4 linked regions of the Homo sapiens genome follow. The protein of the gene in region 1 interacts with the protein of each later gene in a pairwise test. Each region holds a gene or a part of one and is shown in the gene's direction. Other genes may lie near its edges. The genes, in order: UBE2J2, ATP13A2, ELOVL7 and RBP1.

What was found.
Region 2: the proteins of UBE2J2 (region 1) and ATP13A2 interact in a two-hybrid assay, tested with the Homo sapiens proteins (one study listed by BioGRID and IntAct).
Region 3: the proteins of UBE2J2 (region 1) and ELOVL7 interact in binary tests that used the Homo sapiens proteins (3 or more experiments, as listed by UniProt).
Region 4: the proteins of UBE2J2 (region 1) and RBP1 interact in binary tests that used the Homo sapiens proteins (3 or more experiments, as listed by UniProt).

Annotation. Positions count from the first base shown.
Region 1 is NC_000001.11:1,253,387-1,256,862, reverse strand, and holds the end of UBE2J2 (ubiquitin-conjugating enzyme E2 J2), read left to right. Parts: intron 1-737; coding exon 738-818; intron 819-1,375; coding exon 1,376-1,660; 3' UTR 1,661-2,951; downstream 2,952-3,476. UniProt on the Homo sapiens protein: Catalyzes the covalent attachment of ubiquitin to other proteins. Seems to function in the selective degradation of misfolded membrane proteins from the endoplasmic reticulum (ERAD).
Region 2 is NC_000001.11:16,987,909-16,994,941, reverse strand, and holds part of ATP13A2 (polyamine-transporting ATPase 13A2), read left to right. Parts: intron 1-1,106; coding exon 1,107-1,313; intron 1,314-2,360; coding exon 2,361-2,456; intron 2,457-2,539; coding exon 2,540-2,699; intron 2,700-2,812; coding exon 2,813-2,933; intron 2,934-3,083; coding exon 3,084-3,208; intron 3,209-4,654; coding exon 4,655-4,815; intron 4,816-4,938; coding exon 4,939-5,055; intron 5,056-5,171; coding exon 5,172-5,251; intron 5,252-6,467; coding exon 6,468-6,620; intron 6,621-6,707; coding exon 6,708-6,804; intron 6,805-7,033. UniProt on the Homo sapiens protein: ATPase which acts as a lysosomal polyamine exporter with high affinity for spermine. Also stimulates cellular uptake of polyamines and protects against polyamine toxicity.
Region 3 is NC_000005.10:60,841,251-60,849,040, reverse strand, and holds the start of ELOVL7 (very long chain fatty acid elongase 7), read left to right. Parts: upstream 1-4,771; 5' UTR 4,772-4,881; exon of another isoform or gene 4,882-4,993; coding exon of another isoform or gene 4,994-5,619; intron 5,620-7,790. UniProt on the Homo sapiens protein: Catalyzes the first and rate-limiting reaction of the four reactions that constitute the long-chain fatty acids elongation cycle.
Region 4 is NC_000003.12:139,529,733-139,536,765, reverse strand, and holds part of RBP1 (retinol-binding protein 1), read left to right. Parts: intron 1-7,033. UniProt on the Homo sapiens protein: Cytoplasmic retinol-binding protein. Accepts retinol from the transport protein STRA6, and thereby contributes to retinol uptake, storage and retinoid homeostasis.

The DNA of each region.
Region 1 (3,476 bases):
CAGGCTGGAGTGCAGTGGCGCAATCTCGGCTCACTGCAAGCTCCGCCCCCCGGGGTTCACGCCATTCTCCTGTCTCAGCCTCCCAAGTAGCTGGGACTACAGGCGCCCGCCACCACGCCCGGCTAATTTTTTTTTTTGTATTTTTAGTAGAGACGGGGTTTCACCGTGTTAACCAGGATGTCTTGATTTCCTGACCTCGTGATCCGCCCGCCTGGGCCTCCCAAAGTGCTGGGATTACAGGCGTGAGCCACCGCGCCCGGCCGCAGCTGCCTTTCTTCTCAGTAGGCGGGGCTGGGTGGAGTTCCCACCTTGTCCCAGGCACTGTCGTGGAGACTGCTTTGCTCTGTGGCCTCGTGTTCCCCGCTGCCTCTCGGTCTTGCTTTTATCCACATCCAGCCTCATCCACACCCGCCAGGGGCTCCTCCTTGGGATCTTGGGGTGGGCCAAGGCGGTACCAGTTGCACAGACGGCCCGGGCCTTGTCAGCGGGGAGCCCGGTGCTTTGGTGGCTTGTTTTTCCCTGTCTTTAATAGGAATCAAGTGTGATATCATGAATTGATGGGGGGAAGATTAAGAAGGCTTTGTAAGACTATAAGTTAGTTTGCTGTGAAGAGTGTGCTTATTAAATGCTTTCTGCAACACGAAGACTGCAGCCCTTGACTTTGAAATCATCTGTTTTTAGAATCTTGAAAGAATTGAAATTAGTTTTCTGGCTGATTCCCTTCCCTTCCTTCCTAGAAAAGACAACTGGCAGTGCAGAGTTTAGCATTTAATTTGAAAGATAAAGTCTTTTGTGAATTATTTCCTGAAGTCGTGGAGGTAAGAAAGACGGAAGTGGGTTTCGCCTTCCCCTGCGTTAAAACACTTGAGTTTCACCTCTTTCCAAAGAGTAAAATCTGTGTCCTGAAGCTGCAGACCTCCCCAGGGGATGGCTCCTCTCCCCCAGGAGCCCCGAGGCAGGGGAGGCAGAAAGCCTGGGCTCTGGGGGGTGGCCTGCGGACAGCTGTGCTGGTGGGCCGGGGGCTGGGCCTGTCCCACAGGGGCGTGGAGCTCGTGGTTCTGAGCAGCCAGCTGGGTGGTGTCTGGGGATAGCTGGGAGGCACAGCGGCTGCCATGTGGGACTGGGACTGGAGTGCTCCCTGGTCTTGGCCTCTGTGGCTCAGCCTTGCTCTGGTCTGCCTGAGTGCAGGGGCCAAGGGGCACAGGGCCAGTGAGGCCGGCCACGCTCGGGCCCTCACCTGTGAGATGGGGTCGGAATTTGACACAGCCTAGGGCTTGGTTCTTGGTGGTGGACCGTGGACTCCTGAGAACGGGAGTGCTGGTCCTGAAAGGCGCTGGTTGGAGACCAGCTGCTTTTCTCGCTGTTTTTCTCTTAGGAGATTAAACAAAAACAGAAAGCACAAGACGAACTCAGTAGCAGACCCCAGACTCTCCCCTTGCCAGACGTGGTTCCAGACGGGGAGACGCACCTCGTCCAGAACGGGATTCAGCTGCTCAACGGGCATGCGCCGGGGGCCGTCCCAAACCTCGCAGGGCTCCAGCAGGCCAACCGGCACCACGGACTCCTGGGTGGCGCCCTGGCGAACTTGTTTGTGATAGTTGGGTTTGCAGCCTTTGCTTACACGGTCAAGTACGTGCTGAGGAGCATCGCGCAGGAGTGAGGCCCAGGCGCCGAGACCCAAGGCGCCACTGAGGGCACCGCGCACCAGAGCGTGACCTCGGCAGGCTGGACACACTGCCCAGCACAGGCAGACCCACCAGGCTCCTAGGTTTAGCTTTTAAAAACCTGAAAGGGGAAGCAAAAACCAAAATGTGTGACTGGGCTTTGGAGGAGACTGGAGCCTCAGCCCTGTCCTGGCCACGGGCCGCTGGGGCTGGTGTGGGTGGGCCTTGTGTGCTGGATTTGTAGCTTATCTTCCGTGTTGTCTTTGGACCTGTTTTAGTAAACCCGTTTTTCATTTTATTAGATGTGGTCACTTAGAAATGCAAACTTGCTGCCGACCGCGGGCTGCTCCTGCGTTCTTGGAGCTCCTGGCGCGTTTCTCGGAGCTCCCGGCTCCTCAGCGGGTGGGAACCTCGGGGCCCAGGGGTGGAGCTGGCGTCCGCGGGTGCTGGTCTGGCCTGGCCGTGTGGTGATGAGGCTTAGCGGGGCCAGTGACGGCCGTGGCTCAGGATCCATAAGTCGGGGTTTGGTCTCAGCATTTACAAATGTGTTTACAGTCAGAATGAAACACATTCCTTCTAGAAAGTGCTTGGGGGTTTTTGCTGCCCTGGAAGCCAGGAGCCTGCTCACTCCAACCACAAGTCGCCCTTGACTGCGGCGGCCGCGAGCGGGGCGGGGGCTGCCGGTGCCCTCCGCAGGCCGGGCCTCCTGGGCGCCCCTCGGTGCTGCAGGCTGGGGGGCCTTGGGTACCTGCAGAGCCTTTTCTCTGAATTCCTTATGTCCGGTGGGCCAGAAGCCCGTCCTCCTATGCTGGTGGAAGGCGGAGGACCGGAGTCCCTGCAGAAGGCCCCGTGCACTCGGGGGCCTCCCTCACATCCCGTGCCCCCTGCGCTGGCCTTCACAGTAGGTAATGGCTCCGGCCCGGGTGTTCGCTGTCCACGGAACATGGCAGAGGGGCACCCCGGCCCGGAAAGACGCCAGAGCCAGCAGGGGCTGTTTCGGGCCGCGTGGCTCCCCGGGTCTCGGCCGTCTCCCCTCTTCTGCGTCTGTTCCGTGACTTCGCCTGGGTGGGATGTACCGCAGGTGCATCGCGTCGAGGTGGGGCACGGCCGCCGGCAAGAAACCCACCCTGTCCGGAGGCGGGCGTGAGACAAGCCCAGCCCGCACGCGCTCATCTTTCTTCGTTTTTTGATCAGTTTATTCAGAATTGCTCTATAATTTACCAATTGTATGTATTTAACCTATTCTTGTGGAAAAAAAAGGTCTTTCATTATATCTTTATTTCTGAATTTCATGCTGCTTGTGTCTGTGTGGGCCGGGATGTGTGTCCATCTCTGTGCTCAGGGCTGGGGTGGCCCGTGACCAGGGGGTCACACCTGCTGGCCTGGGGTGGTGTGGCAGCTGCAGGGCAGGTGGGTCCCCACAGGGAATCGCGTCGCTGGAGCCATGGTGTAGAGCCCTCTGCAGGGCTCTCTCCCCATCCCGTACTGGATGCCAGCCCTGCCCTGATCTCCGCTTCTGTGACCGCCAGCATCACTTCCAAAGCCCGGTGTCTCCCGAGGCTCATGGGAGGGGGAATGCTAACGAATAGAGTGTTTACTCAACACGCTACTGCCGGGTGCAGTGGCTGCCGCCTATAATCCCAGCACTTTGGGAGGCTGAGGGGTGGATCTCTTGAACCCAGCCTGGGCAATGTAGTGAGACCCCATCTCACAAAAAATACAAAACACTACCTGGTGTGGTGATGTGCACCTTTGGTCCCAGCTACTCAGGAGGCTGAGGTGGGAGGATTGCCTGAGCCCGGCAGGTGGAGG
Region 2 (7,033 bases), about 16 Mb from region 1:
GCCTGGAATCCCGGCACTTCGGGAGGCCGAGGCGGGTGGATCATGAGGTCAGGAGTTCAAGACCAGCCTGGCCAATATGGTGAAACCCCGTCTCTACTGAAAATATAAAAAATTAGCCAGGCACGGTGACATATGCCTGTTGTCCCAGTTACTCGGGAGGCTGGGGCAGGAGAATCGCTTGAACCCGGGAGGCAGAGGTTGCAGTGAGCTGAGATCACACCACTGCACTCCAGCCTGGGCAACAGAGTGAGACTCCGTCTCAAAAAAAAATAAATAAACCGGGGAGGGGGATGACCAGATTCTTATAGTTCCCAGGCTAGCCAAGGAGCCAGACGCGTACTTGGGCAGTTAGAGTCTAGGATGGGGAACGCAGGCACTGACTCATGCGCTCATTCAACAGATATATTGAGGCTGGGCGTGGTGGCTCATGCCTGTAATCCCAGCACTCTGGGAGGCCAAGGCGGGTGGATTGCCTGAGGTCGGGAGTTCGAGACCAGCCTGACCAACATGGTGAAACCCCGTCTCTACTAAAAATACAAAAATTAGGTGGGCGAGGTAGCGCGTGCCTATAATCCTAGCTGCTCGGGAGGCTGAGGCAGGAGAATCACTTGAACCCGGGAGGTGGAGGTTGCAGTGAACTGAGATTGCGCCACTGCACTCCAGCGCGGGCGACAGAGCAAGACTCCATCTCAAAAAATAAAAATAAATAAAAATAAAAATAAATAAATAAATAAATAAATAAATGAGAGAGAGAGAGCGAGCCAACCGTGGGCCGGGTCCTTAACCACAATGCACAAGTGTGGGGAAGTGAAGAGGCCATGGGTAGGAGCCCAGAGCAAACCACCTGCCCTAACTTGGGAGTTAAGGAGGAAGACACCCTGGAAGAGATGATGCTAGACAGAGAGACGGTGGGGGCTGGGGAGGGGGACCCCAGCAGAGGGAATCACATGTGCCAAGGACAGCAGTCAAGAAAGGTCATCTTTTGGCTCCAGCTCGAGTTCCTGGGGTTCCCATAGGGTCCGCCGGGCCTGGGGTTTGGAGGCCCAGCTCAGCAGGGTACCCCCATCCCAGGACTCATCGCTGCCCCACCCACCTGTCTCCCACAGACGGGCACCCTCACTGAGGACGGCTTAGACGTGATGGGGGTGGTGCCCCTGAAGGGGCAGGCATTCCTGCCCCTGGTCCCAGAGCCTCGCCGCCTGCCTGTGGGGCCCCTGCTCCGAGCACTGGCCACCTGCCATGCCCTCAGCCGGCTCCAGGACACCCCCGTGGGCGACCCCATGGACTTGAAGATGGTGGAGTCTACTGGCTGGGTGAGGAGGCCAAGCAGGTCAGCCCCCTGCCTCTGGGCAGTGGGGCCTAACGAATCCCACCCTGTCTTCCCTCTCCATCTTTCAGGGTGGTCTCTTATTATGCCCACCATTAATAATAATAGGCCAGGCGCAGTGGCTCACACCTGTAACGTGGCTCCCGGCGCTTTGGGAGGCCAAGACGGGAGGATCACTTGAGCCCGGGACCCCAGCCTGACCTACATGGCAAAACCCCATCTCTGCCAAAAATACAAAAATTAGCCGGGCGTGGTGGTGCATGCCTGTAGTCCCAGGAGGCTGAGGTGGGAGGATTAATTGAGCCCGGGAGGGCGAGGCTACAGGGAGCTGTGATCACGCTACTGCACTCCAGCCTGGGTAACAGAACGAGACCCTGTCTCAAAAAATAATAATGATAGGCCAGGTGCAGTGACTCATGCCTGTAATTCCAGCACTTTGGGAGGCTGAGGTGGGCAGATCACCTGAGGTCGGAAGTTTGAAAGCAGCCTGGCCAACATAGTGAAACCCCGTCTGTAATAAAAATACAAAAATTAGCCAAGTGCGGTGGAACATGCCTGTAGTCCCAGCTACTTGGGAGGCTGAGGGCAGGAGAATCATTTGAATCCGGGAGGCAGAGGTTGCAGTAAGCCGAGATCACACCACTGCACTCCAGCCTAGGTCACAGAGTAAGACTCTGTCTTAAAATAAAAGTAACATAATAATAATGGCAAGGCCTCAGGCTGAGTGCCTACTATGCGCCAGCGCACGGCCACAGAGGCCTGGTCTCATTTCCTCTTCCCCAAGCCCTAGCAAGCAAGCTCAAATGTTGCTTCACGGATGCTGAGGCTGGGAGATTTGGAGTGACGTATTCCAGGTCACCCAACAGCTTGTAAGTAGCAAAGCTAGAGTTTGAATTTGAGTCCACCGGGCTCCAAAGCCCACATTCTTAACCCACCATTCAGTCTCCCATGAAGGAAGTCTTCCCTGAGTCTAGCTCAAATCTCTCTGTGAGCCAAAGCCCCCAGACACCAAACTTCCCTGCCTGCCTGCCAGGTCCTGGAGGAAGAGCCGGCTGCAGACTCAGCATTTGGGACCCAGGTCTTGGCAGTGATGAGACCCCCACTTTGGGAGCCCCAGCTGCAGGCAATGGTGAGCTGAGGGGGGCCTGTTGGGTGCAGGGCAGAGGGGTGGGCTCCCCAGCCAGCACCTCAGCTGCCTCTCCAACCCTGCAGGAGGAGCCCCCGGTGCCAGTCAGCGTCCTCCACCGCTTCCCCTTCTCTTCGGCTCTGCAGCGCATGAGTGTGGTGGTGGCGTGGCCAGGGGCCACTCAGCCCGAGGCCTACGTCAAAGGCTCCCCGGAGCTGGTGGCAGGGCTCTGCAACCCCGAGACAGGTGCAGGGGGAAGCCCCTGAGTCCCCCTGGTTGGGCATTGGCACAGAATGGGGTGGGTACCCAGCCTCTGTCCCTGCCATCCCCTCCTTGTGACACCTGCCTCTCCCTGGCAGTGCCCACCGACTTCGCCCAGATGCTGCAGAGCTATACAGCTGCTGGCTACCGTGTCGTGGCCCTGGCCAGCAAGCCACTGCCCACTGTGCCCAGCCTGGAGGCAGCCCAGCAACTGACGAGGTGGGCCTGTCTCCTGTCCCACCCACTCTGAGGACTAGGCAGAGGGAGGCTCTCACGCAGGCAGAGCCCAAGGAAGATGCCCTGCCTGGTGGCTGGGAGAGGGGCCCTGGCCACTGCATGACCTCTGATCCAGGTCTGCCCACCCTCCAGGGACACTGTGGAAGGAGACCTGAGCCTCCTGGGGCTGCTGGTCATGAGGAACCTACTGAAGCCGCAGACAACGCCAGTTATCCAGGCTCTGCGAAGGACCCGCATCCGCGCCGTCATGGTGACAGGTACAATGGCATGTAGGGGCCCGGGCTAGCAGGGCAGAATCCGCCCCTTCCTGGCAGAGAAGAGGGGCACCAGGGATTCCTTTTTGGGGCATCTTTTTGGGCCCTTGCTTCAGGCCAGGTCCTTTTTAAACATTTCGTGAATCTTCACAATATCCCCCCCGCAAGTGGTAATTGTCACCCCTGTTTGACAGATGAGGAAACTGAGACTCAGAGGAGTGGAGTGACTTCCAAGGAACCCATGTGCGCTGTCAGACAGCCTGGGTTCCAGGTGGCACCTCTGAGAAATGGGGATAATGATGTCAGCCTCAGAGGCTGTGACAAGCTCAAGGAGCAGGAAGAGAAAGATTCTGGCCGGGCACGGTACTTCATGCCTGTAATCCCAGCACTTTGGGAGGCCAAAGGAGAAGGATGTCTTGAACCCTGGAGTTCAAGACCAACCTGGGCAACATGGCAAAACTCCGTCTCTACAAAGAATACGAAAATGGCCGGGCACAGTGTCTCACGCCTGTAATCCCAGCACTTTGGGAGGCCGACGCGGGCGGATCACTTGAGGTCAGGAGTTCGAGACCAACCTGGCCAACATAGTGAAACCCCGTCTCTACTAAAAATACAAAAAATTAGCCAGGTATGGTGGTGGATGCCTGTAATCCCAGCTACTCGGGAGGCTGAGGCAGGAGAATCACTTCAACCCGGGAGGTGGAGGTTGCAGTGAGCTGAGATCACGCCATTTCACTCCAGCCTGGGCAACAGAGAGAGACCCAGTCTCAAAAAAAAAAAGATTCTAGCTAGGGTGAGACAGCAGGAGCTAAGAGGTCTGTGTCCTTGTCCTCCCCGCCCCTGCACACACACATATGTGCACACACATTCATGGGCACTTGGCAGCAGAGTCACACAGCAGTAAGGAGTATATGTAGCCTGGGCACATGGCTCGTGCCTGTAATCCCAGCACTCCGGGAGGCCGAGGCAGGGGGATCACCTGAGGCCAGGAGTTCAAGACCAGACTGGCCAACATGGTGAAACCCCATCTCTACTAAAAATGCAAAAAAAATTAGCCTGGTGTGGTCGCACCCTCCTGTAATCCCAGCTACTCAAGAGGCTGAGGCAGGAGAATTGCTTGAGCCCAGGAGGAAGGAGGTTGCAGTGAGCCGAGATCAAGCCACTGCACTCCAGCCTGGGCCACAGAGAGAGACTCTTGTCTTAAAAAAAGAAAAAAAAGGAGTATATGTGGAGCTCCAGCCCACGGCTCCAGGTTCTCCTAAGACCCTTCAATGCCTGGATCTACAGATGAGAAAACTGAGGCAAAGGGATGTTGGTAACCTGCCTCAGCTCACTTGGCTGGTGGTGGCAGACGGATTTCATCCAGCCTGTTTTCCCATCTGTAAGGATCAGGATGAGGATGGCCTCCCCGGATAGCCTCAGACCCTCACCTTGCCCCATAACCCCCAGGGGACAACCTGCAGACAGCGGTGACTGTGGCCCGGGGCTGTGGCATGGTGGCCCCCCAGGAGCATCTGATCATCGTCCACGCCACCCACCCTGAGCGGGGTCAGCCTGCCTCTCTCGAGTTCCTGCCGATGGAGTCCCCCACAGCCGTGAATGGCGTTAAGGTGAGGCTAACCCAGAGTTCCAGCTGTACCTCACCCAGTGACCCCACCCCTGTGTCACCTGACCCAGGCCCCAACTCTCCAGGGTGGGCAGGGGGAGCTAAGCTGAGCTTCCTGGGCCCCCAGGATCCTGACCAGGCTGCAAGCTACACCGTGGAGCCAGACCCCCGATCCAGGCACCTGGCCCTCAGCGGGCCCACCTTTGGTATCATTGTGAAGCACTTCCCCAAGCTGCTGCCCAAGGTAGGGCCGCCCCCAGCTCCCTGGCCGCCCTGCGCCTCCCCTGCTCTGTCTCCTTCCTCACGGCTCGCTCTCCCTGGTGGGTGCCTCAGCCCTCCCCCATCTCCCTGTGCTCCCAGGTCCTGGTCCAGGGCACTGTCTTTGCCCGCATGGCCCCTGAGCAGAAGACAGAGCTGGTGTGCGAGCTACAGAAGCTTCAGTGAGTGCTCGGCAGAGGGTGTGGGCAAGGGCCTGCGGAGACTGAGCTTGTCCGTTCGTCTGTTCATCTGTCCTTCCCCAGGGCCCTGTCTCCCTCCTCAGGCACCAGAGAGCTGTCACCCCTCCTCACCAAAAGCAGGCAGGCTCTCCCAGGTCTTTCATGCTAAAAATAATAATTGTAGGCTGGGTGCGGTGGCTCATTCCTGTAATCCCACCTCTTTGAGTGGCCGAGGTGGGAGGATCACTTGAGCCCAGGAGTTTGAGGCCAGCCTGGGCAACAAAGTGAGACCCCATCTCTTATTAAAAATTTAAAAATTAGCCAGGTGTGGTGACACACCGGTCATCCCAGCTACTCAAGAGGCTGAGGCAGGAGGGTTGCTTGAGCCTGGGAGGCTGCGGCTGCAGTGAGCCATGATCACACCACTGCACTTCAGCCTGGGCAACAGAGCGAGACTCCGTCTCAAAAAATAGTAATAGGCCAGGCGCGGTGGCTCATGCCAGTAATCCCAGCGCTTTGGGAGGCTGAGGCAGGCAGATCACCTGAGGTCAGGAGTTCAAGACCAGCCTGGCCAACATGGTGAAACCCTGTCTCTACTAAAAATACAAAAATTAGTTGGGCATGGTGGCGCACACCAGTAATCCCAGCTACTCAAGAGGCTGAGGGCACTTGGGCAGCAGAGGAGGTTGTAGTGAGCAGAGATCACGCCACTGCACTCTAGCCTGGGCAACAGAGGGAGACTCTGTCTCAAAAAATAATAGGCCGGGCACGGTGGCTCATGCCTGTAATCCCAGCACTTTGGGAGGCCGAGGCGGGTGGATCACCTGAGATCAGGAGTTTAAGACCAGCCTGGCCAACATGGTGAAACCCCATCTCTACTAAAAATACAAAAAATTAGCCAGGCGTGGTGGCGGGCGTCTGTAATCCCAGCTACTTGGGAGGCTGAAGCAGGAGAATCACTTGAGCCCAGGAGGCAGAGGTTGCAGTGAGCTGAGATCATGCCATTACACTCCAGCCTGGGCAACAAGAGTGAAACTCCGTCTCAAAAAATAATAATAATAATGATAATAATAATAATAATTGCATCTATTCACTGAGCGCCTCCTGTACACCAGGCACCATGTGGCATTAGGGGCCCAGCTGTCATCATATTCTGCCAGCCCACCCATGGGGTGGTGGGGTAATTCCCCAGGCCACACCTGTCCACACCTCTCTTCAGGTACTGCGTGGGCATGTGCGGAGACGGCGCCAATGACTGTGGGGCCCTGAAGGCGGCTGATGTCGGCATCTCGCTGTCCCAGGCAGAAGCCTCAGTGGTCTCACCCTTCACCTCGAGCATGGCCAGTATTGAGTGCGTGCCCATGGTCATCAGGTAAGGCAGGCAGGGACCGGTGGGTGAGGGCTCAGCAGGGCTGGTCAGCCAACCTGGGTCCCCTAATGTCCGTGCCCTGCCACCCAGGGAGGGGCGCTGTTCCCTTGACACTTCGTTCAGCGTCTTCAAGTACATGGCTCTGTACAGCCTGACCCAGTTCATCTCCGTCCTGATCCTCTACACGGTGAGTATCTGCAGAGCTCCGTACCCAGAGCCGTCCCAGGACTAGGGAGGGGACACAGCCCTGTGCCTTGGAGCTGGCAGGTCCCAGAATAGATGACGTGGGCCCAGATCCTGACCCTGCCACTCTCCGGCTGTGTGGTTGGAGAGGTGGCAAGGCTTGGGGGAGATGAGAAAAACACCAGGCACGGAGCCTGGTACCCACTAGGTCCTCACAAATGGCAGCAGCTGTC
Region 3 (7,790 bases), on another chromosome or scaffold:
TAAAATAGTTTTTCCTGATGGTATATTATTTACCCATGCAATAAAATGTAAATTATGATAGTAGTTTTATCTCTTTGAAGAGCAGTTTATTATTATGAAATGTAGGACATGAGAATTTTAACTAGATACTATTATGTTAGATTTGGCCTTCACAAAACTGTGATATCAAGATAAACTGATTGAATAAACATTCAGATAATATAGTTGGCACAGAAAGCATTTTTATAATATTTGAAGTCAGATCAAAGTTAATTTCATGATCATAATAAGTGGCAATTCTTCACAGTCAAAAATCATGAGTATTTTCAAATAACTGAGGTTTACAGGAAAATAATTATATTGATTGTTATAATAACTTGAGGGATGTTCTCATTCTGTATCTCACATTGTCTTGGAGATATTAATTTTACATATATCTTAGATATGTGAACAGGATTACCAGAAAGAAAATGATTTTTCTGAAACTCATAGTTTGCATTTCAATGCCAAAAAAAATTAAAAGGATGAAGCCTTTAAGTCTGGCAGGCTACAGATACCTTGTGGTAAAGAAACAAGATGTGGGAATGGTTGATAGTCATTTACTCAATGAACCTATCATATTGCAATTATGTTCTTCCTCTGATGATATCAGAGTTATCATTATCTCTCAGAGTTATCATTATGAAATCTATATAAAAAAATAGGAAAACATTTTAAAGCATTTAAATATGAAACTCACAAAAGTACATTCCACAACTTTTCTAAATTTCTTTTTGCCATCTACATATTTATTTAGCACCCACTGTTTGTAGGCTAATATCCTAGGCACCACAGATATAAAGAGAGAGTAGATAAAATATCTTCCCTTTAGGGCTTATAGCACAGCTGGGGAGGCAATGATAAGTATCAGAAAAGATAGGTCACATGTAAGGTGTCTCAGCAACTCTTAACAGAATCAGTTAAGAGCGTGTGTTAAGATGCACATTCCTTGGCCCACTCTCCAGACTCACTAAATCAGCATCTCAAAATAATTTTCAGGAACTTGCATAACATCCCAAGCATTGTGACTCTCAGTAAAGTATAAGAATCACTGGTAAAAGTTAAATCCATATGATACTGACATAGAGTAAGAAGTTGACAGGGTTCAATTTTCTCTTAAAGAATAAAATATAGTGAAAAAAATTGTAATTATTCACAAGGGTTATCGTTGCCTCAAGAGAATACCAGAGGCACTCTACAAATTACTAATAATTTAGTAAAGACAAAGGATTTACAACCATTAAACAAAAATTAGCGTTCTTATATTTACATTTAGAAAATGTAATTTAAAAATACATATACCAGGCCAGGCACGGTGGTTTACACCTGTAATCCCAGCACTTTGGGAGGCTGAAGAAGGAGGTTCTTGAGACCAGGAGTTTGAGACCAGTCTGGGAAACATAGCAAGATCCCGTCTCTACAAAAAATTAAAAAATTAGCCCCCCATGGTGGTGCATGCCTGTAGTCCTAGCTTCTCTGATGCTGAGGCTGGAAGATCGCTTGAGCCCAGAAGTTCAAGGCTGCAGTGAGCTATGATTGTGTCACTGCACTGTAGCCTGGGCAACAGAGTGAGACCCTGTCTTAAAAAAAAAAAACGTTGATAGTAGTGGCAATAATTATAAGGTTCCTAAGAATAAGCATAATAAAATATGTGAAAGACCAACTATGGAGATATATGTTCATGGATGGGTCACCTCAATATCATAAAGATGACAGGTTATCCCTAAATAACTTTAAGACAATTAAAATAAAAATCCTGCCATAGCTTTTCATTGAAAACAAGAAAGAAAGCTTCTTTTCACATTTACATAAAATAGTAAAAGTAAAAGAAAATATAAGGCAGGACACATAGACAGTGGAATGGAATCAAGAGCCTAAACACAGAACCCCGTGTGTGAGAATTTAGCAAATGGGGAAAGGAGGGATAATCTCTTCTCTATTCTCACTCTTGGTGCTCTTAGCCATTCTCATGCCTTTCAGTGTCATCTGGAAACTGACTACATCCAGATTTATATTGCTAGCCCAGACCTCTCTTTCTTGACCTCCAGACTAGTGTAATCAACTACCTACTTGACATTCATTCCCATTTAGATAGGTAACAGGTATCTCAAATTAAAGCAATGCCAAACAACTCCTGACCTGCCCTTCTCCCTACATTTTTCTTTCACAGTTTTTTTTTCTTTCAGTAAATGGCATTTTTTTTCTTCGAGTTACCCAAGGCAAACACCCTGGAGTCATCCTTGACCTCTTTTTTCTCTCTCTCATAGCCCATATCAAATTCTCAGGAAATCCTGTTAATATTACCTTCAGAATGTATTTTTTTAAATCTTCTTTCACTACTACCAACTTGGTCAAAGCCACCTTTATCTCTCATCTGGATTTCCCAAGAGCCTCCTGATCATCGTCTTACTTCTGTCCTTCTTCTCTGCCTCCATACCCCATGCCCTATTCTCAAAAAAGTTGCCAAAATACTCTTGAAAATGTCAAAGTATGACAGTTTTTTACTCAAAATGCTTCCTTAACTCTTTGACCTCATTTCTTACTGTCCTCACTCACTGAAATTCATCTGACATCTCCCCTTTGCTGGTCTATGAATGGAATATCCCACACCACACCCCCAGAGCTTTTAGCCTTGCCATTCCCTTTGAGTGGAATGCTGTTACTGGATAGGCACACAGGTGTGTCACCTTACCTGTTCAAAATCTGGGCTGAAATGCCTGCTTCCACTGGGGCCTTCCCTAACCACTTTAACATTTAACACAACTCCCCACCTCCAAAAGTCTCCATCCCCTTCCCTTCTTTATTTTTCTTCATAGCACTTATCAAACCCTGAACATCACATTTTTTTTCTTTTTTTTCCTCTTTTTTTTTTTTGAGACAGAGTCTAGCTCTGTCGCCCAGGCTGGAGGAGTGCAGTGGCGAGATCTCTGCTCACTGCAACCTCTGTCTCCCAGGTTCAAGCGACTCTCCTGCCTCAGCCTCCCAAGTCGTTGGGACTACAGGCACGCACCACCACACTCGGCTAATTTTTGTATTTTTAGTAGAGACGGCGTTTCACTGTATTGCACAGTCTGGTCTCGAACTCCTGACCTCACGATCTGCCCGCCTCGGCCTCCCAAAGTGCTGGGATTACAAGCGTGAGCCACTGCGCCTGGCTGAACACTACATTTTTTTTACTTCTTTATTCATGTATTGTCTGTCATCTCCAACTAGAATGAACGTATAGTCCCTGAGAACGGGGAATTTGTTATCTATTGAAACTTCAGGGCCTGGAACATAGCAGCACTCCAGTATTTGTTAAATAAATGAATCCATTTGAGCTTCTGCATATTTGAAATTTCATAAGTATATATAAATGGTAAATTGTGATAGACTCAAAGGCTAGTATCATTAGGCAATTGTCTCCCGTTCCCAAAAGACTTCCTAAGTCTACTAAATGATCTGTTTTTAATATGAAAGCAAAGTTATCTAAAAGAAAGGAGAAATCTTTAGTTTTTTTGACTTCGAGATTCTTTGCAATTTAAGCTTTTTTTTTTTTTTTTTTTTTTTTTTTTGCTTTTCTTTCAATGGACACTTTCGAAGTTTTACATAAAAACATTAAAACCTCTTGTTTAATGTAGTGGGATTAAGCTGCCGAAGGCAATCCCTACATGTGAGGAAAATATGCTTCCGACACCCCAATTTTTTTTTTCTCCCTACCCATCCTCTCTGGTGGTCCTGACGCTCCCAGCCCCTTTTTGTGTTTCTTGATTCCATGCTGAGAACTCGCAATACAAACTCAAAGCCCACATTTGTGAGGTGGTTGGGTCAGGACTGCAACTAAAAATGATTATTGTTTTTTAGGTTTCTGGACAGTTCAACACCAGCCTTTGGTTTTGCCTCAGAAGCAGGGAACTTCTCTAGGCCCCTATTTTGCCTTTCAGCTATTGATGATCCAAATCATACCAGCGATTAGGAGGATCATTACCAGACACAAGGCCAGGTACGTTTAAAAAATAAATAAACCAAGCGCAGGTGCACACTCCGAACGCTCATCCCCACCCCCACTTTCCAATCCAACAGTAGGTAACGAGAAATGAATTTTCTAGACTTTTTTTCCTGCAGCAGTTGCTGTTACCAGAAACAAAGTTAGATGATATACAATCTAATCTTCATTGCTCTAAAAGTCCTCTCCCCATGCCCCCCAGGCTGCCTCAATTCTCTAGTTTCTTATTCCTTATAAGCAGGGGATGGAGCTGAACCAAGTCGGCCTTCCCCTCCCAGGGCCTTCTCCTCTTGGTCTGGCTTCCATTTCAGATGCGAATTAACCCTCCCAATACCCTTTCAGAAGCAAGGAGTCCCCTTTTTCTCCGCCTCCAGCCTCAGCTAGGTTTTCCTCATTTCGGATTTTTCTACTGCTCATTCCCAAATGAGTCACGCATGACGACAATTTCCACTCTGCTATGTCAGCCTGGAGATGTCCCCCAAGTGATGGCATCTGCTCTCGGAAAGAAAGGTCATCGGTGCCACGACCAGCCCCGCTAACCCAGAGCGGCCGGTGGGCCCCAGTCCCGAGAGTCAGGGCGCGCGGCGGAGGCGAGGCCGGGGCGGCCTCCGCCCTCCCGGCCGCTCCCCCTCGCGCCGCCCCGGCTCCTCCCTCCGGCCCTCGGCGGGCACCTGGCGGCGGCGGGCAGGGGGCGGCGCTGCGCGCGTCACGCGGCTGGGTGGGATAGCGGGCAGGTGACACCCGGCGGCCTCCTCCCCTTTCCAACCCAGTCGGCGGCCGGGACAGCGGGGGCCGCTGTGAGGAGCTCCGCGCTCGCGCTGCCAGTCGCCGCCCTCTCTCCCGCGCGCGCCCGGCGCTTCGGCTCCGCTCCCTGTGCGGTGAGTGCGGGGTTCCAGGCCGGCGGGCAGGGGCCAAACTTTCCCGGCGCGCGGAGGAGAAGAGACTGGGGAGGGAGGCAGAGCCGAGGGGAACGGCGTCGGGAGTGGCCGGATGGAGGAACTTGGGCGCGGCGCGCGAGAAGTGGGACCCGGGTGCGGGGGCCCCGGGAGCGGGGCCAGGCCCTCCCTGGGCTCGGGAGGCGCTTGGGAAGTTCTGTCCCCGCTGCCTGCGCGTGGGGAGGACCGAGGCCCTTTTCGCCGGAGCGCGGGGCCGCGGCGCTCACCTGCGCCTTCTCGGGAGCCCCCACCCGGCAGCATCCCGAAGGGAAGGTCGGGCCCGGTGGGCGCGCTGCGGAGCGGAGCCTGGACTGGGGTCCCGCGCGGCGCTGGCCCTGCGGAGCGGAGCGGGAGGGGCAGAGGTGCTCGCCGGCGGGACTGGGAGGGAGAAGGACCTGCTCGACCTTGGACGCGGAGGTCATTTTCCCAGCTCCGGGGTCTGGCCTCGCTAGCCACCCCCCCAAATTCCGGAGCCCCTTTCTTTCTGTTTCCTTCCTTCCCCTTTGGGCGCTTTTTTTGCTCCCGCGGCCAGATGAACTTGGGGCGCTGTCCCTTCGGCTCCCCGAGCCGCATCCTGTCTTGGTGGCTGCTGCTGGCCGGGAGGAGGCTGATGAATACAGAGCCGTGGAACAGGTCGTGCCGGAGATGGAAACAGGAAAGCCTGTTGTTTTGTCGTCCCAGGTATCGTTGGTTCTTTGGGAAATGGGCTTTCCCAGGTTCGTTGGGAAATGGGCTTTCCCAGGTTCGTTGGGAAATGGGCTTTCCCCCTTCAAGTCAGAGCTGTTTCAAACTTCACCCGGTGCGGACAGAGCGCTCTTTGGAGCTCCCTGGGGAACTCGGGACGGGAAGGAGCGGGTCTTTACACCTGTCCTGCTCCCAGTGTAGTTAGTCCCGCGTCGACTGAAGAACAGTTTTAGCGACCCGAGTTCCTCGCCAGTGGTCTTTTCCCTCTTGCTACGATCTCCCCTCGGAAAGCATGTTCACTTAACCCTGTGCTCTCGGATTACCCTTTATTTCATTCCTCACTTTTATTGCTTACGTGCTCCGAAAGGGTCATCGATACCTGGTGGCTGCCTCTGCGTTCTTACCACGCACCCGCTTATTCATTCCCTTTCTTTGTAGTTTCTCTTCGTACTACTGATCAGAAATTGGTCTCCCCAAGGTCACCGAGAACTAAATAAAATCCACCCCTCACCCCGTGGCAGACATTTATCAGTGCTTAGGTGCCAGGCACTGATGTCAGTTCTTGTGTAAAAGCTTTTAATCTTCACAACGATCCTGGGAAGTAGATATTAATATTATTCTCATTTTAATGATGAGGTAACTGAGGCACGGAGAGGTTAAGTAACTTGCCCAAGGCCACACCCATCTCAGCGGTAGGAGATTCCAGCTCTGGGGTTCTGTCTCCAGCACTGGAGCTGTTAACCACTGTCCTACACTGCCTCACCTAGAGTTCGTTTGCTCGTCCTTATTTTCTGAAGTCCCGTGCTGTTTCAGGCATCGTTGACCAGGCTGTCAATCTCAGGTCCCTCTTTTCCTTCTTATGTGTCTTTATACTAGTTTAGGATCCCCACACCCTCCCCCTGCCCCCGCTTTTTTTTTTTTTAAGAAAAATAGATTTTTGGGACTTTGTTACTTCATCTATCACCTGTATTTATCTGGCTTAAGATTCTGTGCTTTCCATGTCTTCTTCAGTTTTAGTGTAACGTCTGTCAGTGCACATTATAATATTCCGCTTGGACTTGCCCGGCTTTTCCCCAAAACAGCTCCAGATGCTCATTTCCATTAAGGGTCCTGCCATTATCCTGGTCTCCAAGGTGCCGTGCCATTCCTCTCCCATTCGTTAAATATCTTCTATCCAATTTTTACATGGTGTCTTCTAGCCTTTATCAGTCTCGCCCACTCCCATCCTCTCTTCACCACTCTCCCTCTTCCCCACTTTGAACACATATGCCCTTCTCTGCTATTTGTTATCATCTTTTATGTTTGCTTTGCACAAAAAGATTGCAAACAGCTTAGGACATTAAATCTTCAGGCCTTACAGCTAGTAGTTGCTTGATAAATGTAGAAGATGATACAGTATAAATTTTGGTAGCACACATCAGGCAGGTTTGATGATGGAAATTTTTAAGCCAGGTTTTACAGGAAGTTACGGAGTTTGCATTGGTAAACGTGTAGGAGCTGGTAGACATTGTACATGAAGGGGAGAAAAGCCTGTGTTCACTCCATTGTCACAAACAGGTACCCAGCTGTTCTGATGAAACATTACATTTAGAGGTATAATGAAGCAAATCAGCAGAAAACCATTTATCCTTATCTTGACAAAACAAAATATGAAAACACATAAAGTTAAAAAAAAACCTTTTTATTGAAAAACGTAGCACATACATAAAAGTGCATAAAACATAAATGGACAGATTAACACAGTAGATGTATTCAGCAATAGAACGACAGTGTTATTCTGGCCATAGATAGGCTACAGTCAGGCCAAATAGGAATCTTTTCACAAAAACCTGTATAAGGTGAAGTGGGCCTGGACTGCTCCCAAGAGGCATTGCCAAGAAAGAATTGGCTGTGCATGGAGAGGCTTGAGGAGAGAGAAAATAAGACTGGAAATTGGTACCAAAAGGATAAGATCAGGGAGCCAAGAAGAGAGTTCAGACCCACTGAACATAATTCTACCACAATGAATATTTAACCAGGTTGCCTTTGTCTCTCTCTTTTTTTCTATGCATATTTTCCTTCATCATACTCCATATAGTATTTTAGTATTCTCAGGCTGGGCACAGTGGTTCGCCCCTGTAATCCCAGCACTTTGGGAGGCTGAGGCAGGTGGATCACCTTAGGTCAGG
Region 4 (7,033 bases), on another chromosome or scaffold:
GGCAGGCACACCAACACTCGCAACACAGTGTGGCAAAGAAAAGCACAGGGTGGGAGTGAGGGGATGGGGACTACCCAGAGAAGGGGATCCCAGAAGAATTTCTGAAAGAGGTGACTTCTGTGCTTCATTGTAAAATAAAGCAGGGAGGTAGAAGGGAGGGTTTTGGATACAAAGGAAAGGACAAGGGCCACCTTTTCTTCTCACTACAGCATCAGCGTCAATCGAGCATCAAGCAGTAGTCGAGCAGACCGTGCAGATTCAGCCACTGGACGAATCCAGTGAAACTGGTCTAGGATGCATGGTTACTATCACTGCCCCAGGACTCAGGGATGCCCACTCTCAAGTAGATAGCCATTCGCTCACCTGTTGTGGCCTGTTGGGAGATGGAACAGCCTGTCTGCTCTGCTCAAGCCTTCGCCTAGCCCCATGCAGTACAGAAAAGCCCTTCTCTCTGGGCTGGCCGCTGGGTGGTATGCTGCTTTGGACTGCCGGAAGGACATGGCTGGATGGGGGTAGGATGATAGAATTAGAGCAGCTGTCAGGCCTGAGACTTGTGAATGGAGGGGAGCTGGGTACCCAGAGGCCACCAGCTGGGCTCTCTGAGGGCCGCCAGGGGTCCTGGACAAGGTGGTTGCCAAAGATCACTTTCACTGCTACCCCCTCTGCCTCACACACTGGGCACCCATCAGCCAGGAGCAGTGGCCCAGAGGAGTTTGTTCCCAGCATATTACAGGAGTCCCATTCTCACTTGGGATCGGTCATTCGTCTATTTTTTTCATTCCTCTCTGGACACCACAAGCATCTCATGGTGCTTCCACTATCTTTGCAACCCCTGTGTCAATGAGACAAATCACACACGATTCCTGCCCTCATGGAGTTCAGTGTAAGGAGGAGGCAAATTGAAGCAGCCAATCACGACGTAGTGGACACTGTGCTGATACAGGCAGAGAAGCACTCCCTGCTCGGTCTGAGAGGTCAGGGAACGCTCCCACAGGAATTGGAGTCTGAACTGTGGCTTATAGGATAGACAGGAAGTAGCCAGGCAAACAGAAAGGGGTTGAAAGAAAGGCCACGGCCGAAAGCTGTCCCACACCAAGCCCTGGGCTTGGCCCTGGGGTCGCAGAGGCAACAAGGCCTTCTGGACACCCAGGCCAGTGGAGGAGACAGGCACATCTTCAGGCCATTACAGCTCAATGCATGATGGGAGCACGGTGGGCTGGGGAGCATACAGCTGGGAGTAGGAAAGCAGTGGTCAGGGAAAGTCCCAGAGGAGGCGACAGCTGAGAGGGGCCTTAAAGGACTAATTAGGGCAGATGTGGAGAAAAGGATAAGAGCTTTCCAGTAAGCGGGAACCACATGTACAAAGGCCCAGGGTCAGAAAAGCCTGGCTGGGAGGGAGTTTCAGAGGTGAGAGAGGAGCAGTCTGCGAAGACTTCAGCATGCCTGGAGTGCAAGATGTGGCTGGGAGAGAAGAGAGCCAGGAGAACCTGGCAGGGAGACTTGATGTGACCCTGACAGGCCTCTGTGAGTCCTTGCTGGGAGAGGTGTGGCCAGGCTGACATCCCTCCCCAAAGGGCAGAGGCTCTCACTGGCTGAGAGATCTCTGATCCTGCCTCTTTTCCATGGGAACCTTATCTGTATTCTAGAACTGCAGCCAGAGGGTGAAACCCAGCCTGCAGATGTGTTTTGTTTGGCCTGTACAATGTTTGAAAAGCTTCAGAGTCAGTTGCCAATAATTGCCAAAGATTGTAAGATTTCACAGAAAATCCGTATTTCTGGCTGTTCTTAACAAAAACAACAAGAAAAGGAAAGGCCCTGGAAACACTGGGCACCTGTTTATTCCTGCACTGCGTGGATCCCTGGAATATGTTGCAGCTGCTCCCTTTAGATGTTACATTTCCTAGTTTACCACAGTCTTCAGCCCATCCTGTTACCTGAAGTCAAGGATCAAATGGCCATTTGTCGCTGTTTGCACTGTGGGTTCCTTTAGAGCTGTGGATCCCAAAGCAGAGGCAGCAGCAGCAGCAGCAGCATCACAGGGAACCTCTTAGAAATACAGATTATCTGGCCACACCCCTGGCCTACTGAATCAGAAACTCTGGGAGTGGGGCCAGCTATCTGTGGTTCAATAAGCCCTCCAGGTGGTTCTGATGCAACTAAAGCTTAAGAATCACTGCTCTGGAGTAAAGAAACATACTCTGTTCCTGTGTCTCTATAAAAAAATGGAAAACTGTAAAATTAGGTGTACAGGGCCATGGGCATGTAGAGGGCCAGTTTGGCCCATCACCTGAGTCCTATGGACATTGCAGTCCATGCCCAGAACCACCTGAAACAGCTCTGTGTTCTCTCCCCAGGTGGAGGGGTGGAGGGACTCAGATCTGGGCGGCTCTGCATCACTAGGCTCACATTTCCAGTCTGATCTAATCAGATTTTATGTGACCACAAACAGCAGGCACTATTTTGGTAGAGATATACAAAGTCTGGGCTCAGCTGAACAGACACAGGGCTTTTCTCCATTGCTTCCTGCATGCCTTTGTCCATAAAAATGTGCGATCAGGCCCAGCAAGGAACCAGCAGCATTTGTTGAATATAACACATATGTGCTTTGGCAGGGTGGGAGCTCTTGAGAAAGGAAGGTGCTCTGACTTCAGATAGTGTTTTCTCACTCCCGAGGAAGCGAGCGCCTCAAAATGATTTGGTTCTTTGTCTCGAAGTCCCCCCAGCATGAGCAGGTTTTGTGGGAGAAGACTGAGCCTCGGCCAGGAATCACAGCCGTGAGCCTGGCTCTGCGGGGGTGGCAGAAGGGCCATTTGTCATCCCCGTGTCCAGGTCATGTTTTTCCTGTAGGAGATGGCTTTGTTCACTCGGGGAACAGGCGCCTCCCCCTGTGGCTGGAGCCTCAGCTTCATATCCATCGTTGAACTTAGGATGACCCCTCCACAGGGCCTGCCTTCTGCTCCCAGCCCTCCGCCCCTCTGTCGCTTTCTTTGTTTTTATTATAAAAGGAAAATATTCAAATAGCACAAGAAAGTATGGGCTGAAAAGGGCCCCTTCCCCCACTTGGCCTGATTCCCACTTGGTGGATCTGTCCGGAAATCTTCCTCAGACTTATAATTGATCTATCTATTGATTAGGCAGTTGGCCAAGGTCTCTATCTAAAACCAAAAGAAAGAAAGGAAAAGAAAAAAAGGAATCCACTTCTCTACATATTTTTTTAACTCAGTGATATTTCTTACACATTTTTCCATATCAGCACTTACAGATTTTCTAAGTTCTTTTTTAACCGTCTATGTTTCCTTTCCTTCCCTCCCTTGACTTCCTTACTTACATCCTTCTATTTCTCCACCCATCCATCCATCCATCTAATTATATATGGTAATACATGAAATCCAACAAAGTACTGTTGACACTTTGGTTTAAACTCTTGCCAGCTTTCTGATCCTATTCTTGACCCATTAAAGAGATTTTTTGATTTGTTTTAAAAAACACACACACACACACGCACACACAATGCCACTGGCTAAATTAACTCCCTGGGCTGCAGCGCTGAGAATGCCGTTGGATGTGGGAGCCTCTGAGAGCTGCCCCTGCCCAGATCAGGCACCCGGCATTCAGCTGGGCCCTTTCCAGGCTAGAAACACAGGATCTCTTTCATGTCTTAGCTAAAGTTCTCCGACCTTTGAAATCGGTGTCAGCAGCGTGCTTTTGAGGATTACAAAAAGAAGAATTAAAGCAACCCAAATAAAATTCACAAAGTAGCTTTCAAAAATCACACTGCTTTGTTGGGTTTTGGGTTTTGTTAGGCAGGAACAAAGGAAAATAACATGTACTGAATCTTTACTAAGTGCCATGCCTGCCCCAATTGCTTTTTGTACTTTTTCTCCTTTGGTCCCCACAACAAATGCTGTTCAGTAAGTATCATTATACTCATTTCACAGATGAGAATCTGAGGCTCAAAGAAGTGAAGTGCCTTTTTAGCCCAAGGTCACCCTTGGGCTAGCTGGTGGCAGAGGAAGAATTCTAATTAGTCTGTTTATAAAGCTCTCTACCCCAAGGTCTCCCACAGAGCTTTGCTGAAGGCCAGCACCTCAGTTCCTTATTGTGAGCCTTCTCACAGTCTGAAGGTAAACCCAGGCAGTTTTGACAAGGCCTAGGATGAGTGAAAGGAGCACCGGTATTAGAGTCAGAACATCTATTTGAATTCTTCTCGATTATCTGACAGCGGCCTTAAATGATTAGACACACTGCCTTTGTTTTCATATCTGCAAAACGGGCATCATAATTGCTGCTCAGCGTGTCTCACAAGGCAAAGCTGAGGACCATAGAGATAGTACAGGGCACATGAGCTTGGGAAGCCACAATACTATGTGAGAACAGGGCCAGGGCCTGTGATACCCGAGACTGAGGGGCATGGCATAATCACTTATGATGGCCAGGTATTTACTGAATGAATTACAGCTGTTTGTTTTTCTGACCAACATTGTTCCTCCACCTCCCACCCAAGAGAAGCACTGTTTTCTTTATGGTGGGAATTACTCCTCCTCAACCTTTTGGGTCCTGGTGGGGCTGCAAATCATAGTACCCTGTCTCTTCTGGGAAGAGCACCTTCTGATAGGGTGATCACAGTGTCCCGTGGCCTGTCACATACTTGTGTATGTGGCCCAAGCTGGGCCAGTCACCATTTCCTGGGAGTTAATTTAGGAACCCTGAGAGACAGGTGAGTTCTATTCCGTTAAAGGTTGATGAGCTGTTATGATGTAAGCTTGGTGTTCTCTGAGGCCAGTCCCCTTACCCCACCTTCCTTAGCTGCATGGAAAAATCCAATTGAAGGAAAGTAAAAGATGAGGCCAATAGAGACAGAGAGAATGCAACATTAGAGGGTTACTAGAGTTCCTGACGCACCATTCCTAGATTTTCCATGTACTTCAACCAATACATTTTTTTTCTTTCACCTTAAGTTATGTGAATTGGTTTCCTGCCACTTGCATCTGAAAACATCCTAAGACATTCAAACTCCAGATATCAAGCGTTAAGACCCACATAAGTAGTTAGAGCAGTGGTTCTCAAATTTGAGCATGCCTTACCCCTAGAATTTCTCATTCTGAAAGTCTGGGGTGAGGCTTGAGAACTTGTTTTTCTAACAGGTTCCTGGATGATGCTGATGCTGTTGGTTCAAGGACCATGCTTTTGATAACTACTAACAAAGAAAAACAAGGAAGCAGGCTGGCCTGTGCCTAGTTTCCTGTGATTTTTCTCATCATGATTCAATGTAATAAGCCTGTGCTGGGGTAAAATGTGCCTAGTTCTAGGGGATGAATGAGAATAGGTAGGTGTAGCTCCATCCCAGGATCAGGGTAGTGGGGGATGAAGACTGCCTGGGGACCTCAATCTTGCAGCAGCCCACAGTGGTTTGCAATTGAGGGTCCAAGTAAGTGATACCAATAGTGTGTGCAGCTGGACAGGTGTGAGGTACAACAGAGCAATTAGGAGCTTTGACTTTGAGATGGACCTGGATTTGAATCCTGGTTCTGCCGTACAGCTGTTTCCTTGGCAAGGGTACTTTATCCCTCTGAGCTTCAATGTGCTCATTTGTAAAAGGAGCCAAGGGTAATACCCACCTAATGGAGTTATGTGAGAATTAAATATGGTGATGAATTATTTCTGTTTCCTGTTGCTGTGTAACAAACCACTCTGAAACTTAGTACCCTAACTCAACAATATTTATTTTGTTCACAAATCTGCAATTTGGACAGGGCTCAGTGGGGATGCCTTGTCCCTGCTGCCTGCCCTGCCAGTGGGGAGGTAGAGGATCCACTTTCCAGATGGCTAACCCACACTTACTCTCTGCTGGGTGCCTGGGCTTCCTCACTACGTGGCAGGTAGTTTCCAAGAATGCAAACACCATAGGGTGCCAGCTACCTTTAATACAGGGATTAGTGCGTTCTTCCTTTCTTCCTTCCTCTTCCCACCCCTTCCCTCTTTCTTCCCTCTGTCTTTCCTGAACTGAGGGTCCAAGGATAGCATAGGAATACTCTGGGAAAGAATGGTATAAACAAGATGGGTGTGAAGGTGGGGATGGCATGGAACCCAGTCTCCAAAACCTACCTTTGCCAGCTTTACAGTGGAACTGGTCCTGCACTAAGAAAATAAAAAATAATAATAATAATCTTCTCACAATGTGCAATAAATCAGAAAATCATCTTACTCTTTGACTCAGGGATCCCACTTATGGGATTATATTCCAGGAAAATCACTCTATTTGTACAAAGGTATCTGTTAGTCACTCTGTGATAATAATTCTCAACAACCCACAGAAGCATAACCACTATCTCAGGGCCTACTATGCGGCAGGCCCTGCCCTGTCATTTTATGTTTATTTAATCTCCTAACAATCCTGGATAGGAGGTGCTACTCTCCCATTTTACAGACAGGGAGCCAAAGGTCCTGCCCAGGTTCACATTACTGATTAACCATAGATTTGTGATCTCACTTCGGATGTCTCTGATTCCCTACTTTGTATGGTTTTTATAGAACAGGCTGTCTCCTGCTGGTATACCTAAATATCAAATAACTATGGGTGGTTAGAAAGACTGGCTTTTTAATTCCATAGACCACTATGTAGCCGTGTAAATGATCACTATGAAGATAAATGAAAAGTTTTTATAGGCATTCAGTCACCAAGTTCCATAGATTCTGCTTCTTAACGTCTCTTCCTGTTTTTCTTCATTCCCACTGCTCTGAATATCTCGTGCCAGTAATAATAATAACAATTAACATCTCTCGTGCTTACTGTGTGCCAGGCTCAGCGCTTTCCATGGATTATTTCATTTAATTACTGCAGTATCTTCACATTCATCTCCATTTTACCATGCTCAACACTTCAGCCCATCCCTCCCTTTCTAAAAAGGGAATCTGATCATGCTACTCCCCAGCTCAAAATTCCCAAGGGCTTCCCAGTGCTGATGGGTAAAAGCCAGATGGCACTCAGGCTCTTCAGATCATGGCCCTGCCTGTCTCTCCAGCCCTATTCCTT